2 separate regions of the Homo sapiens genome follow, and region 1 is linked to region 2. Evidence: fine-mapped expression QTL. Tissue or cell type: whole blood. Region 2 holds a variant in brackets; the other region holds the start of a gene. All regions are shown on one strand. Distances are from middle to middle.

Region 1 (8,000 bases), 200 kb after region 2:
GACCACTGTGCCTGGCCAGATTCATCTTTAGATCTAGTTTAAAATTCACCTCCCGAGGAGTCTTTCCTGACACCTTCTCCCTACAGTCCAGGTTAGGTCCCCCTTACATCCCCCAGAGGTTCCCTCTTGGTAACACCCATCCTGCTTGCAATCATGTGCCAGTATGTGCAAGCAGCTTGAAGAGAGCAGGCCCTCCATAATAATCCGTGAAAAGGATGGAAAGCTGCGTGGGGGGTGTGGTTAGAAAGCCAAATGATGGGATGCTTCTTCCATCACACGACCTCCCCAACACCATGCCCTGACCCTGGGCTGCCCGCCACAGTCCTCTTCGCTGACTTAGGGCTCATGCGTCATTCTCAGGGCTTGATTCCCACGGACCCCACATGTCCTGCCCCAAAGCATTCCCAGAATGGAGAAGCCTGGCAGAGGATGCAGCAGATGGGGTTGGAGTCTTGACTCTGACTTGCTGGGTAGCCTTGAAAATGTGCCATCCTACAAGAAGCACTAACATTTCTTGAGCTCTTACATGTGAGAGACACTTTTCTAAATGTATGTGTGGATTAGCTCATTCAAAACCGAACAACCCTATAGGTAGGTGGGGAAACCAAAGCACAGAGATGTGAAACTACTTGCCTATGGTCACACAGCTGTCAAGTGACAGGCCCGGGATCCAGCCCAGGCATTGCACTCTCGGCCAGCATGCTACACTTCCTTTCAACACTGCAGAATAAAAGGGCAGTGCTCTTCCCAATTTTGTGCCTCACACATTACTTTGCAAAACTTTGCAAAAGGAGAGTCTTATTTCAGACCCTGGTGATTCTCATGCAGCCCAGCCTACCTCCCAAACCCACAGTCAGGAGGCCCTTACAGGTCAACCAAACTAGAGAGAACGAGTTCAGGACCAAAGAGTCAGATTGATGTCTGCATGACCGGAATTGTGCACAAGGAATCCAGAGCTCATGAGGACCCTTCTGTCAAAAATGTGTGCTTAGCACTGGGCAGGACACCAACTCCAGGAAACAAAATACATCATCGTCTGCAGCTGGATGTGGCCTTAGAGAATAGAGCCCACATTTCAGTGAGGTCCAGAAAAGTCGAGTGACCAGCTTGAGACCACTTAGCTGGCTCAGGGCAGAGCCAAAGCTGCACTTGACCCCCAGCCCCTGCCTGGTGGCTCTTTCAGCCTCACCCTGAGCCCCTTCCCAGTTCCTGAGGACCAGTGAGTCCCTCTGGAAGGAAGGGCCTCCACCTCTAACTCCTCCAGCACAACATCAAAAAGCCTCAATTGCTAGGCATGCAATTATTTTCTAAATAAACCGTACTTGAATATGTAATAGCAAATGGGAGCACTTGATGAGAAAATCAAGTTATGCATAATAAATAGCTCTGCTCCTCAGCTAATAAAGTGATTTTTATTCCTAGGACTTGTTAAAACTATGCACTACAGATATATTACTTCTTAGATGACACAATTGCAGCTTTCCCCATACAGGAACATGTGAACCAATAGATGCAAGCACTCACTCTAGGGCACAAGAACTATCTCAGTCACTTCCTGGCCTCAGAGTAGCTGGTCAGAGTCCCTGGGCAGTCAGCCCAGGAGTAGAGCCCAAGGAGTAGAGCCCTGTCCCATGACACCATTCCCAGGGAGATCCTCCCCCAGCATCAGGTCTGGGATACAGAGGATCCCAAGAACCAGGCAGGAGACTGTGGAGTGGGAAAGGGGCCAGCATTTGCTGAGCACCTACTGCATGCCTACATACCTGATCTTTTGATATCTATTGTCTCTTTCCCCACCCTAGCCATACAAGGAGTATATTATTCTCTGCACTTTACAGATCAAGAAATTGAGGCTCATGAAGGGAACTGCTTTACCAAGCCTGCCCATACCAAACGATGGAAATAGGGTTTGAGCCTAGTCCTATCTGGTGCCAGGACTGCTTCCTCTGTCCAGTCCCTACTGCCCCAGTCTCTGGCCCATCCTGGCCATGGGCATCACAGCCAGCCTAGAAAGGATGGGGACTAGGAGAGGAGAGGAAAAGGAGACAGGGGAGGGACACAGGCTTTTCTAGTCTTAAAGACACTCAAGGCCAGGCGCAGTGGCTCACACCTATAATCCCAGCACTTTGGGAGGCTGAGACGGGAGGATCACTTGAGGTCAGGAGTTCGAGGCCAGCCTGGCCAACACGATGAAACCCCATCTCTACTAAAAATATAAAAAATTAGCTGGACATGTTGGCACGCACTTGTAGTCCCAGCTACTCGGGAGGCTGAGGCAGGAGAATTGCTTGGACCCAGGAGGTAGAGGTTATAGTGAGCCAAGATCATGCCATTGCACTCCAGCCTGGGTGACAGAGTGAGACTCCATCTCAATTAAAAAAAAAATGAATAAATAAAAATAAAGACACTCAAGGAAGCAGCACTCACAGCTGCCTTGGTCCCCAGACTCTTCCCCTTACTCTCAGGGAGGGTATAACACCCATAGGGCACTCTACCTGCCAGGCACTGCCCTGGGGAATTGGATACAAAATTTCATCCCTACCTCTCTGTACCCTGTTTCTCTGCAATCCTCATTTCACCAACGGGAAAGCAGAGGCTCACCAGGATGAGGCACTTTTCCCAGTATCAGTCAGCTGAAGGGATCTATAGAGCCCTCTCTCCAGTCACAGCAGCTCGTCACCCCTGGAGGTCTACCTGCCATCCTTCTTGTGTCACCCCTGGACGTCTACCTGCCATCCTTCTTGCTGCAGAGCTCCCTCCTGCCTACCTCTGTCCTCAGCACAGAGACGAACCTGGCCAAGGCTCCCATTTCCCAGATGTCAACACCAGCCCAGTAAACCACAAATGCATCCTGTGTGCAGGCCTCCCCAGTCACTCTCAATCTATTAATCCAATCCATCCCAGCACCCCAGCCCAACATGCCACCCAAACCGCCTCATTCCAGGCCCCCTCCCCCACCCTTTCTTTCTTTGCCCAGAGGACACCTGGCTGCCCGAGTTTGTGTTCCCACAACTGCCCCCAGCATGGGCTTGCCTGGGCCAAGAGGGCCCTCCCGAGGACTGGCCAGAACAAGGAAAGGGACAGGAAAGGCCACATCTGGATCACAGCCCTGAAGCCCCCTCCCCCAAACCAGCCATCACTCTCTCAGAGCCCAACAGTAACCTCAGCCAGGGACGACTTCCTCACCCTCCTGACCCCATGCATGCCTTTGCCTGGCCAAGACAGCCCCACAGGAGCCCCTCTGAGGAAGGGGTCCTCTCCTCCTCTGACCCCCAGCCCTTCTGCAGCAGGCAGCCCTCTCCCATCCCCCTTTACCCAGGAGCCTCAGCCCAGGTCTGGCCTTAAGACTTTTAACCTTCACCACGTGGCCCCCAGGCCTCTCTGCTGGCCCCCCTGGCATCCCCATCCTGAAACCCACCTCCCTGAACCTGGAGCCAAGAGAGAAAGGGGGAAGAGCGGGCCATGGCTCCCTCCTCCAGGATGGAGAGGTCTTGGTAGCAGGGGAGGGCTGTGGAGGAAGGGATGGCAGTGGGTGGAAGCTGAAACTGGGTGTAGAAGGAATAAAAGGGATGGACTCTGAGAATTCTCCCACAGCCCAGCTCTTCCAGACTTAATATTTTGGACTACTATTCTTTGCTCCCCAGCCCCACCACTGCCTCCTCCTCAAGATCTTGGGCTCAGCAACTGAGGGGGGGCGGTGAAGAATTTTCACCCCATTGTAGGATGCAAGTCGGGAGGAAAGGCTCTAAAGAGAAGCAAACTTCTCTGTGGCCTCCTTCCACTTACAGCTCTGGGACTCCATTGGGGGGTGGGGGGGTGGGGCAGGGGATGTACTGACCCGGGACCCTGGGCCTGGGCCCTGTTGGTGGGGAAAGTCTTCCGGCTGAGGGTTGCTCAAGTCAGTCTGTCCTTCTGTAGGTCAGAGACAGAAAGGCCCCTCCTTCAAGACTGACACCCCCCGACCCCGGGCTCTCAGCAAAAGGATAAGGTGGCAGGGGCCGGTGGGGGGCGGGGGGTTTGAGGAAGAGTAACGTCGCAGCTAAAGCAGCCAGACCTACCCAGAGCATGCAGGACAGACAGATCCACGTCATCTTTGCTGGGTCCCGTCACTGAGGCACGCCCAGGGCCTGTGAAGAGCCCCTGAAGCTAGAGTCCCCGCGGCGCTGGCAGAAGGGCTCTCTGAGTCCGCGGCTGCTCCGGCTCCGCCAGCATCTGCTGGGCCTCTCGCCCTGCTGCCTCCAGCTCACCCTCCCTCCTCCTCCTCCTCCCCCCACTCCACCCCTCGTCCCAGCCTCCTCTCTCCTCCCTCCTCCCAGGCTCCACCGGTGGCCTTGAGGGTCAGGAACCCTGCTTTGCAGGGGGTGTAAAGGGGACAGGGAAAAGGGAAAGCTACCAGAGGCAGGGCCCCCCCAGGCCGTGCCCCCCACCCCCGGACACACAACCCCTGTGTGCCACCAAGGCTCCTCAGTCTTCTGATCTGGTGCTGGTAGGCCTGGAGTCCTCCCTCCTCACTGCAGACCCCCGCCCCTGGCAAACCAGCCTGGGGGCCTTCACTCCTGGAACCCTCCAGACCACTGATGGATGAACAGACAGCCCCAGGCCCACACAATCAGCACACTCAGGGTGCCTTGGCCCCTCCCCTTCTCTGAGTACCCGTGCCTGCCTTCCTGGCCTCCTCGGAACACACATGCATTTGCACACACAGACTGGGACAGACTCTGGTGCCCACGCGCCAAGCTCAGAGCCCAGGACAGGCCTTAACACAGAAGAAATAGGGCCCGAGACTGGGGAAGAATGGCCCTGCCCCCAGGCTGTGGGTTTCATTCCAATTTTTTTCCTATTTCTTTTTTTTTCCCCCTTCTTTCTTTCTTTCCTGCAAACATCTGTCCCAGCCTTTCCTGCCCTTCTGAAAGGGAGCCCCGCTCCAGGCTCCCGCGAGAGTGTGTTTTTCTTGACTGTACCCGGGGCCAACATTTGGTTTGCATTTCCCCACTTCCTCCCCCTCCTCCCCTCTCCCCCTCCCTGGGCCCAGTTCTCCCCTCCCACCATTCCACAGGCCTATTTCTTCCCCTCAGTGTCCCCTGCCCACCAGCCCTCCCCTCCCCTCGCCCCCACCTCTGCCCAGGGACAATTGTTGGGGGTCTAGAGGGTGGAAAGGAGGCTGGGTCAAAACCCAAAAGTATTCCCACGGAGCACTAAGGGGGAATCCAGCAAAGTCTGCCCCAGGCCTTCATTGTCTGGAACCACCACGTTCCCCTCCAAAAAAAACCCTTCCTCTTTGAGCTCTGGCCTTGGCTGGACCAACTGAGGGTGGGTGGGGGCCAGTGAATCACCCGCTCTGTTCTTTGGAGCTGTCCAGGAGAAGGAGGGAGGGCTCAGCCCCACACCCTCCTGTGGACACACACACACACAAGGACACAGTCCAACTCACGTCAACACATAAGAGCCCTCCCAGAGTAGGCACTTGGAGACCTCGTTCCTAGACTGAGTCACTTAGCAAGAAAAGTTCTCTTGCCTGGCCTCCTATGCACACTGTGCTATACATGCCCTGGGGCCACATGCACGAAGGGTTACAGATCCCCTGCCTCCCCCCCCCACTCACCCAAGGCCATGCCATGCCGCTGTCTGTCAGCACCACATACCGTGCAACTACCAGCCTCCTCTTTCACAGGGATCTGCCCAGCCACTTGTGCCAACTCCCAGCCCAGGGACCACCCAAGACATCTACCTGGGAAACCCCAGAATGAAGGGGAAACACTGACTCTTCATCTGAAAAAAAGACTGCAGTATTCAGATACACAGGTTGTCCACAGCACAAGGGACTAACCATCTATTGTTTGGTGGTTCTGAGAAGTCAGGGGAGGACACTGAAGTGAAGTGTCAATTTCCAGCCCTTCCTAAAGCAGGTACCTGAGTGAAGAGTCTTTGTTCCGGTAGAGGAGTCAGGGTCCTCTCTCCATACTTCTCCAAGTCCTCCAGAGCTCTGGGGCTGGGAAAGATCCTGCCTCTAGTGTCCTTCCCTGCCAGGATCACAATGTCCCTCTGGACCCCCTACTCTAAGCCTCCTGGGGCTTCACTGACATTTTAGCCAACGCTGAAATGAACCAGTGTTCCACATGCAGTTGGCCCTGCAGTCACAGCTGGGGATGTCCATAGACAGAAACCTCTGCAAACCCTCCCGTCTCCCCTGGCTGGAGCACCAGGCAAGCAAAGGGGAGTGGTCTTCAGGAGGCCTCTCTGAGAGCCCCTGAGCCCCTCCTCAGCCACTATCACCAGCTCTGCCAGGCTGCCCTTGTCCCCTGACAAGTTCAAGCCTTCAGCCAGCTAAGCCCTGACATCCCAGTGCCCACTCACACCAAGCTCCCCGCTGCCTGCTCCCACAGCCCTTCACTGCTGGCGTCACTGAAGACGCCTCCAGGCAGCTTTCTCTGGAGTTCTGAGAAGTCACCTTGGGGCTTCCCAGAAATGCTGGAAAATCAAACCAAAAACCAAGTCACAGTGACACCAACTTGTCTGGCCTCCTACACAGCCCGAGGAGGCCCTGCTGCTTCCCCAGACTCCTCAGCTAGGACTGTGAATGGAAGTAGGGGACCCTAGTGCTGGGGGTTCCCTTGGAGAAACCCTCCCTCCAGAATACCCCCATCCCTCTTCTCCAAGCCTATGGGGTCTCTCCTGTATATTAATCGCTTATCATCAAGATGTCCTTCCTGCTAATTAACCACCATTTTCCCTGTTGAATGTTAAACTCTGCCGACTGAGGTGTCTCTAACTGTGTGTAATGACCCTGTTCCAGGCTTGTCAGCCTTTATTCCTCCTTCACAGCCTGGTGTCTCCACCCCAACCCACACACGGGCAAGGACGTGTCCTGTGTTTTGTATCCCCAGAGCCTGGCATACAGCAGGCACCAGACATGGTTGAAGAATGACTCAATCACTCAATCAATTAGTCAATGGATCCTAACATATTTTCCTACTGTAAGCATTCACTGCCTCCTTCCCAAACCTTCCTTCTTTTCCCTTCAAAAGGGCCTCAGGCAGCCCTGCCTGTACACTTTTGCCCACAATTTCAGTGCCACCCTATCTGCAGCCACCTCTGCCTGCTGCCAATGCCCCATTCCCAAGCTCTAGCCAGCTGCAGACTCTCCGCAGGCCTGGATGGTTTCATTCATCTTGGGATCCCCACCCTGTGCCCAGACCCCTGTCTCACACACAGCAGACATGGAGTACACACTGGAGGACTGGCTGGGGCTCTACACTGGCATCCCAGAAGCCTCAGAACCCAGCCCCAACCCTGTGCCATCCCCATTTCTGCCTTCCCGCTGCATGCGGAGACCTCCCTCCGCTCATCCCTCCAGCCCCCTGCTCAGCAGCCAGCTGAAGAAACAGAGTCAGGTCTGTGGGCTGTGGTGCTGGCCCTGGGGCTGGAGGAGGGTGGAGCCAAGGCAGAAGGAAGGGTGAGTGTGGTCAGGAATGAGCTAATGGCCTTAGAGCCTGAGCCTGGCAGGCCCCTCCCTGGGCCTCAGTTTCCTTTACCTGTAGAATAACAGGACTGATGGCCTCCAAGGTCCCTTCCAGCTCCACCTTCTGCGATGACACGAGTTTCCCAGGCCAAGGCCCCAGCCCCATCCAATTCACTCTTCCTTTCCTTTGACTCTTGTCCACCAAAATATTCTTACTGATGTCCACCCCTCTCCTACCAGGGCGTTAAGCCTTTCCTTTGTCACCACTGGTCACAGCATCTGAAGGTAACAGAGCATTTTAAAGCTGGAAAGGTCTTCAAGCTCAGCTGCCCAGGGGTCACGGTAACAGCCTTTGGGGGTCACCTAGAAGTTCAATGAGGGGAGCGGGCAAGGGGTCACAAGGGCCTGGTGAGGACAGGCCCCAGCTGAGGGGGATGCCCACTCCTTGGTTCCCCACTACAGCATGCAGCAACACAAGCCCACATCTCCACATGTTTTGATCTGCCATAGAACCCTCAACTCCATATTTTATATAAAATAT
Region 2 (8,000 bases):
CAAACAGCTTAACACTGATTGGAAAACAAGCTTGGGACATCCCTCTACAGTAACTCCACTGCTGGCAAGAGCCCAGGCGTGGGATATGAACAGAGGTCCTCCAACATTTTGGACATTTGAGGACAGAGGTGCCAAGAGGGACAGATCTGCCCGAGGCCCCCACCCTGCCCCTCTGGGTGAACCACTTCTCACCTGGGCTATCGCTGAGACTCCACCAATTGGTTGGCCTACAGGCCTCACCTCCCGACTCCCCTCACTGCTGGGCGACATTGAATTTGAAGTTCCATTGCCCAGCACCTCCAACCCCGACTCCCAAGTTCCCTAAAGAAATGAGCAAAACACACGCACACACATACATCCACACTTGCACATGCGCACACACGTCCTGTGTTACCACTGGCCAAGGAAACGCGAGTCTCAGGATTCCAGGGCCTGGACCTGGGGTAAAGGGCTGCTCTGGGACTCTGCCCCCCAACCTCTTGGAGGACCCCGAGTGTGGGGGCAGGATTGGGTGTCTGCCTTGACTCACAGGATCTCCCCAGGTCCTAAAGCTGAAAAAAAAAGTGGGAGAAGATCCAGGAGGCAGGGGTGGTGGACAAAAGTAGGAGTGAGACTAAAAAGTGGGAGTGAGACTAGATTTGATCACACTCACCACCCTTCTGTGCCCCCTGGACAGCATGCTCCCCTGGAGCCCCTGCACAGGCTCATCAGAACAAGGCAGAATCTCCTACTCACTAACCTCCTGAGAGCCGTTTATAGGGGGATCACACTTGTCCAGGAGGGCTGCCCCTCCTGCTTTCACACAACCACTGGCCCCACCATCCCTCTCCTGGCCAGTCTCAGAAGACCCAGGGATCCTCAAAAACCAGGGGAGAAGGAATCCTGGCCATTGGTGTCCACAGCTTTCAGAGCTACTGGAGGAGACGCTCAGATGACATGGGTCAAAGGCCTTTCCCAAACTTAGGATGTGATGTATCTGTCCCTTAAGCGCCTGGCTAAATAAGAGAGCCAGAACACCGTGATAGCAGGCTGATCAAACCGCTCACTTCCTCCCTGTTTTCCTTCGCAGGTCCCCTCTCCATTGTTTTCTCGCCCAATCCTTCCCTCTTGCTCCCTTTGGGAAAAAGCCACGTGGAGCTCACTGGGCCCCTCCCCCAGCTGAAGGGACATGACCCTCCTCTGCCCTCTTCCCTCCAGACACCCAGCTGGACAGCTGGTGGCAGCACGGGACTGAACCTGCTGGGGTCTGCGTCGCTGCGATGTCCATGACTCCCTGGCTCTTTGTTGCCCATCTTCTCCCAGACCCTTTCCCATCCCAGCCCATGTTCAAGGCCAGACAGCGCTCTCCTGGCTGACACACAGATTCAACAATAAACAACAGTAAAATAGATTCAGGGAGGGAGAAGACAGAAGAAGATAAACATTTACAAAATAATAATTAGTAAAAGTGCTTGCTTTTAAAGGAAATCTTTGGCAAGAATATACTGCAGTGCGGAGTGTTGTGTGTGCGTAGGTGTGTGCATGGGTGCACAGCCCGCCGTGACACAGAAGGGCTCTGGTGCAGGGCCCAGAGGTGGGGCCACTGTGGGGACTGGGGAACCCTTCCCCATCATTCGCCTTGAAAAGTCACACTCTCAGAAACTGACTCCTTCCGCAGGGATGCTGGGAGGGAGTTACCAGCTTTCTGGCATGAATGGGTCCTCCCGCAGGGGCACACATGGCTCAGGCTGGAGTGGAGGGGCTGGCCATGCATGCAAGGTGGGCTGTGGTGGGTGGTGAGGAAGGGAAAAGCGACCGTGAAAGCTGACCCCAGACTCAGTCCTGGGCCCCAGCCAGGCTGCTTGAAGGGTCTGATACACCGCCCAGCCTCAAGTGTGGACAGAACATCCATGCCAGGAATAGGCTCCTGGGCTCTCCAGTGGGAGATGAGATATTTACAAAGGAAGGGGATGGGAAATATCTCCTATCTTGGAAGATAATTGGGGTTTGCTAGGGAATGAGGAGAGGGGGAAACCCAGATATTTGGCTTGAATAACCCAGAAGGAAGAGCACTTTGGAGGGACTTTGGTCACCAGGCACAAGGTTTCACTCTGGGAAGCAGGGGGTGGCCAGTGGGGCCTCTGCCCCTGCTCTCCACCTTCTGCAGACACCCTCCTTTCCAACTCCCTGAAACAGAACGTCCACACTGACACAGCTCCTTGGAGGAGAAAAAATACAAAAGACACACACGCACCTATGTGTGCCATACACACCCATGTCCCCGCATGCTCACACACTCGCTCAGGCCTGCAGAGTCAGGGACAGCTCCCCACACATCCTGGGAGCTGACTGCTGGGCCCCTGGCTTGCTGAAAAGTAAGGGGGCCAAAGGCTGGGACATGTGCAACCCCTCCCAATGCTGAGCCCCACACAGTCTAGGGAAGGCCAAGGCCAGGGCAAGGAGACCCTGGCTGCTTCAAGAACAAAGGCCCCCTACACTTCAGGCTTTACTTACACATATAAAAAAGGATAGGAATTGGTTTATCCCCAAGGAAGGCAATAAAGCAATATGGAAAAACAATAAATACTTCTTGTCAATTTACCTATTCTTTTTTTAACCTTTTCTTACATTTTATTAGCTTACAGATTCTGTCAGTATGTCTCATGTATATATTATATAATATTTATATATCAGTACAATGCCTCTCTCTAGGGGACTCGCATAGGCTTAAGAATGGAGTCCTGGTGAATTTTCCATTCTGGCTTAGAGTCCTTAAATGGTGGTCAGGTGTTTTCCCAACTGTCCAGTGGACCTTAGGCCCTTTGGCCCAAGTGCAAGCCTTCTGCCCTCTGCTGCATGGGCAGCGTGGCTCAGCTAGGGAAACCAAGGCAGAAAGGGTGACAGTGAGGCTTTGGCATTGTAGGTAGGCGATGTGGTGTGCAGGCAGCAGGCCCAGGAGCTCTGCTGAGGTCAGAGGGTGCCTGCAAAAGCCAGACCCTAAAACACTTACAGAGGGGAGGATAAGGACTCCAGGTTTCTGGCCGGAGCCTCACTGAGCAGAAAGTAGGTTCCCCAGGGAGAATTCCAACACAGGGACCCTGCAGAATAGAACAGGGCTGGGCAGAGCAGCAAGACTCAATCCCCAGCCCCCAAAAAGGCATCATGCAGGTAAGCAGGTCTGAGATAAGGCTGGTCCAGGGGCATGAAACCCAATAACAAGGCTGAGAGGTGGGAGCTAAGGCAGAGTCCAGGGCCCCAGCAGGAGCAACTTGCCTTTCTTGCTGCTGAGCCACATGCCTTGGGGAAGACACCCCGAGCTCAACAGCTGCCTGTTCTGACAGATCTCTTCCTATGGATACACATATCTCTACCTCCTCAAACCAAAGCTCCAGGCTTCTGGCCAAGGCAGGACAGGGCGATGCCATTGCAGACCCTCCCACTCCTGCTGGGGTCTTTGTAGAAGAGAAGGGTCTGGCGGCACCCAGGGTCACTAGAGTGCAGGTGCAGGCACCAGGAGAGAGCCTCTGTCACCCATAGCTTGGTTGTTTGTCCCTCCCCTGCTGCACTGCCACCACCAACCCTAATCTTTGGACAGTATGCATGTGTGTCTACAAACACATGGGACAAGGACAAGCCGAGCTGTTTATAATTCGAGTGGATAAAGGCAGATCTAGATCAATGTGTGAGGATGTGGGTGCAGACACACACCCACACGACAATATAGTGGAGGCACAGCAAAGAGACCTGAGGTGCCTTGGGTCTGAGATACTTTCAAGCAAACAAGTTCTTCCACTTGATGTCCCACGGTGGCTCTGTTTGGTTTGACAACCTACCC[C/T]ACAGGTGGCCAGAAAAAGATTCTCCCAGCTTGATTTCCCCTTGCAAAGCAGTTGAGTTAGGGAGACAGAGCTTTTCCATTCCCCCAAAAAATGTGGATTCCCAAGGAGGTTTGTTCCTTCTCTTTTGAGGACATCCATCTTCTTAGGGGAGGGAGGGGGTGTTAGGTGGACCTGGTTAGTTTTGGAGGCTTTGGGTTTTTGCAGTTTCCATCTACCCAGGGGAATCCAAGTTCTTCTCCTCCATCTTTCTCTCTCTCTCTCTCTCTCTCTCTCTCTCTCTTTTCCCCCTCCCCTCTGCAATTCACTTCCCTCTCCCCACGTTGCACTTTCTTCTCTCCTCCGAAATTGGCCCAAAGTCCTCCTTCTGGGTTCAAGAGTGGTCAGGATTCATGGGTCCCCTCCCCACAAGCCCCTTCCCCATGGCACTGGCCCTGGGCAAGGGGCAGGGTTCATCTCTTTTGGCCGGCATTCAGCATGACCTTGGAGACGAAGTTGACGATGGCAGAGGCCGGCTGGTTGGGGTCAAGCTCAGCAAAGAGGTGGCAGGCGTTGTCCGTGGTGCTGCCCTGCTTCCGGGCCACGAAGCCGAAGAGCCTGCAGGCGGGAGAGGGCAACGGGCATGAGGGAAGGGCAAGTGGAACCCCAGGAGGTGGACAGCAGCCCAGGTGAGCAAGCTGGTCTCAGGCCAACCTCTCTTCCCCATCCCTCCAGCAGGCCTCAGCATCAGGGACTCAGAGAGGTGCAGAAGAGAATCCTCTGTGCACTCCCCTGACCACAAGCCAAGTCCTAGAGACAGTGTCCCACCTTGTTTAAGGGTGGGCAGAAATCCCCTTTGAAGGGGTGCGAGGGGAGCTGCAGAGGATTGACAAGGCTGGATAGTGAGGGGTGGGGAGGAGACCAAAATAAAATGGGAACATTCCTAGACAGGCCTCTCCCCGCCCATCCCAGCCCTACCCCTACTGACTGTTCTTACACACAACACATATGCCAATCAGGAAAGTGCTGTCTGCCTGCAAACGGCTCAGCCTCCTCAGACACCACAAGGTCAGGGAGACAAAGGTCAAGTAGCTCACACCCCTCCACACACACACACTTATTCTTCCTGGGCTCAAGAACCTTGGAAGCCAGAAAATAAAAGGGAAGGTGGACCCCACACCCGTTCCCCACCCCCACCCGCAGGACTGGAGTGACCCAGCATTCTCTTCGCAAAACAGAGTTAAAAATATGAGGGCAGAGAACAGAATGTGAGCTCAGGTCCCCTCCCAGCCAGCATGTTGCTAATTAGAGCGAGATGGGGAAATGAGGACAGCTGGAGATTCCTATGAAAACCCCTCTCCCTACCGCAGGACCACGGCAGCTGAAGTTAGCAAAGGGGGATTCTGCTGGTCCCTGTGTGCCTGTGTGTACAAACCACCACACACATGCACCACACACATACACACCATCACACACACCACCACACACACCACACACACCACACACACACCACACACACCACCACACACACCACACACACCACACACACCACACACACCACCACACACCACACACACCACCACACACACCACACACACAACACACACCACCACACACCACACACACCACACACATACACACCATCACACCCACACACATCACACACACACAACACACATATCACCACACACATACACACCATCACACACATCACCACATGCATACACCACACACACACCACTGCACACACCACACATACCACCACACATACACACCACACACCACCACACACACATACACCACACACACACAAACCATGCATACATACATATACAGACCACACACATACACAACATATACACACCACACACAACACGCAAACACAACATATACACACACCACACACACACACACACACACACACATAATCCAGCATTTCCTACAGCTCTGCTCCTCCAGTCTTGTTTCAGGGGCCAGGAGCAACAGGGCCAAAGGCCTGGGGTAATGCCCAGGTGGTGGGGGAGCTGGGGTCCACAGGGCATCCCCCAGCACCTCCCTTTCCCAGCTGGCTCAGACCATGAGCAGGGGTGGGGGTGATCCTGGCAGAGGGAGGAAGCATGCCAGCCCTGGCTGCGGGTGTCTACCAGGATGGAGACCCGGCAACTGCACCTGACTGGAGCACCGAGCCTGCCCTCCCCTGATATTTCTTTCAGCTGTGGCTTCCAGGCTCCCGCAATAGCCCAGTCCTGTCATCTGCCACAAGGAATAGATCCAGGCAAGAAGCCTCAGCCCGCAAGGGCAGGAGGAAGCGCTTGCAAGATCCCAAGATCTAACATCTCCTTGAATTTTGCACATGAGATCCCTGGCTGGCCTCACCTCGTCCCTGTCATGATTCCCTGTTAGCCCACTGCCCTGCTTGGCCTCTCCCTGTGGCCTCTGCCCCACCCATCAAAGCTTCTTCAGCAGGAGGCTCAACTCAAAACCAGCTCCTGAAGGAGGAAAAGAGGGATTTCCAGGCTTGGGGGCCCAGTTCCCTTCTGTCCCTGACCTTCTTCCCTCGCAGGGCCCTGTGGTGAGTGAGCACAAGCCCCTTCAAACAGGAAGTTCCAGCCTGCTGCCTTGGCCAGCAGAGACACGGGAAATGCAGGAACTCAAAGCACTGATGACCCTATGAAGCCTGGACAAGGCTGAACCCCACCATCCCACATGGCCTCTCCTAAGCTACCATCACTGACCATGTGATAGACTAGTCAGTCCATTCATTCGGACTGAGGCATTCTCACTAGCCTCCTCCTGCCTCTGCTCTTCCAGCCTCCATTCTCTCATTTCTTCACTCAACAAATATATACCACCTCCCCATGTGTCAGACATGGCCCTTCCCTTGGGGAGCTTGCAGGCTGGTGGCCATGAGGCCCCTCCCCTGAAATAGCCCCTCCTACTCCCATTCTCATTTTGACCTGTCCAAATTGAACCTGTCTTTGAAGACCCGTCCTTAAATATCTGCTCTTTCCACCTCTCTGAGGTGCTGATGTGTTCTCCTGCATGAGCTCCCCAGACGTAAGCTGAACTCTCTTGCTGCCTCTCCCTCCCTTGCAACTGTCATTTTTTTAACACTGAACGTTTTGTTTTTCTAAAGCAACCTTATATGAAGTCTGCATATATAAAGGTGAAAGCAGTATTTTACAGCTATAAACAGCAATCCAAAAGCACGACATTTACCTATTATAAAGTCAATCAGTGAGGATAATAGGGCTGTTGGAATAATCCTGACAAAGTGAAAAGTAGATGACAGATCATGGTGATAGTCTCATGTCAGCTTCAGACCCCAGGTTATGCCTATATTTTGTTTGGTTTTGTGATTGTGAAAAAACCCTAGTTACTGCTGATAGACAACTGCAAGGAGCAGCAGAGCTTTCCCTCTCTTCTGTACATCAGGTACAATCCAAGGATGCTAGGATCCTTGGAATACAGTTTGAAAATCACAGAAGCATCTTAGTGCTATTTAGACATCTGTCTTATCTGCTGTGCCAATGGGCCTCCTGAGGGCAGGGTCAGAGACCCAGGCAGGATCTGAGTCCCTTGGAGGCCCCTAGGACATGTCTGCTGGATGGAGGAATCCACCCGAAGGTCCCAGGGCCATCCCCAGAATTCAGACTTTCTGGGCTCCCACATTCTGATAAGGCTGATTTGCTCGGCCACAAGACTCACAGGAAAGCCCACCAAAAAAGCAAGAGCAGAAATAAAGGCAGCTAGAATTGGGGCAGAAAAGATCATGTAAGCAATCTCTGACCCATTTCCATTGCTTCTAATAAGACTGTTTTCTGTCCACTTCCTGCCATCCCTGCTGCTTCTAACCCTGGGAGAGTGAAGGCAGCTGGACCAGACGCTGGGCCTCTGGCCTCGAGGCAGGACAAGGCAAAAGGCCTGGAAGCCTGGTCAAGCTTCACTCGGAAGCTGAGTGACCTTGGCACAAAGGTTTTTGCTGCTCTTTCCCTACCCCCAGCCCTGGTTTCTAAATGTGCCCCGTGCTTCCCTCACTGTGAAGTACAAAGGCCAGCCTGCTGGGCAGGGGTAAGAAGTCACACTTACTTAGCAGGGGCACCACCCTCTGTTTTCATCCACCTGTGGAGAGAAAGTGGGCTCAGGGTAAATCATCGTACTTTCTCCCTAGAGCCCAGCCCCACCCATGCCCAGACCCTCTGCAGGAAG

Evidence for each region. PIP is the estimated chance that this variant, and not a neighbour inherited with it, causes the effect.
Region 1: it holds the start of TNS1, and the variant in region 2 is fine-mapped to the expression of TNS1 in whole blood (TOPMed, PIP above 0.99).

The regions. Positions count from the first base shown.
Region 1 is chr2:217,998,782-218,006,781 of GRCh38, forward strand. TNS1 (tensin 1) reads right to left here and starts at 4,214. Exons shown (of 33, transcript NM_001387777.1): 1 at 4,059-4,214. The coding sequence starts at 4,091. RefSeq lists enhancers at 2,658-3,158, 3,159-3,659, 5,400-5,499.
Region 2 is chr2:217,800,195-217,808,194 of GRCh38, forward strand. TNS1 (tensin 1) reads right to left here. Exons shown (of 33, transcript NM_001387777.1): 32 at 7,881-7,913; 33 at 1-4,409. The coding sequence ends at 4,265. Among named protein-coding and RNA genes, the nearest start is that of DIRC3, 14 kb to the left of the region's middle. The variant C/T (reference allele first, on the strand shown) is at 3,815.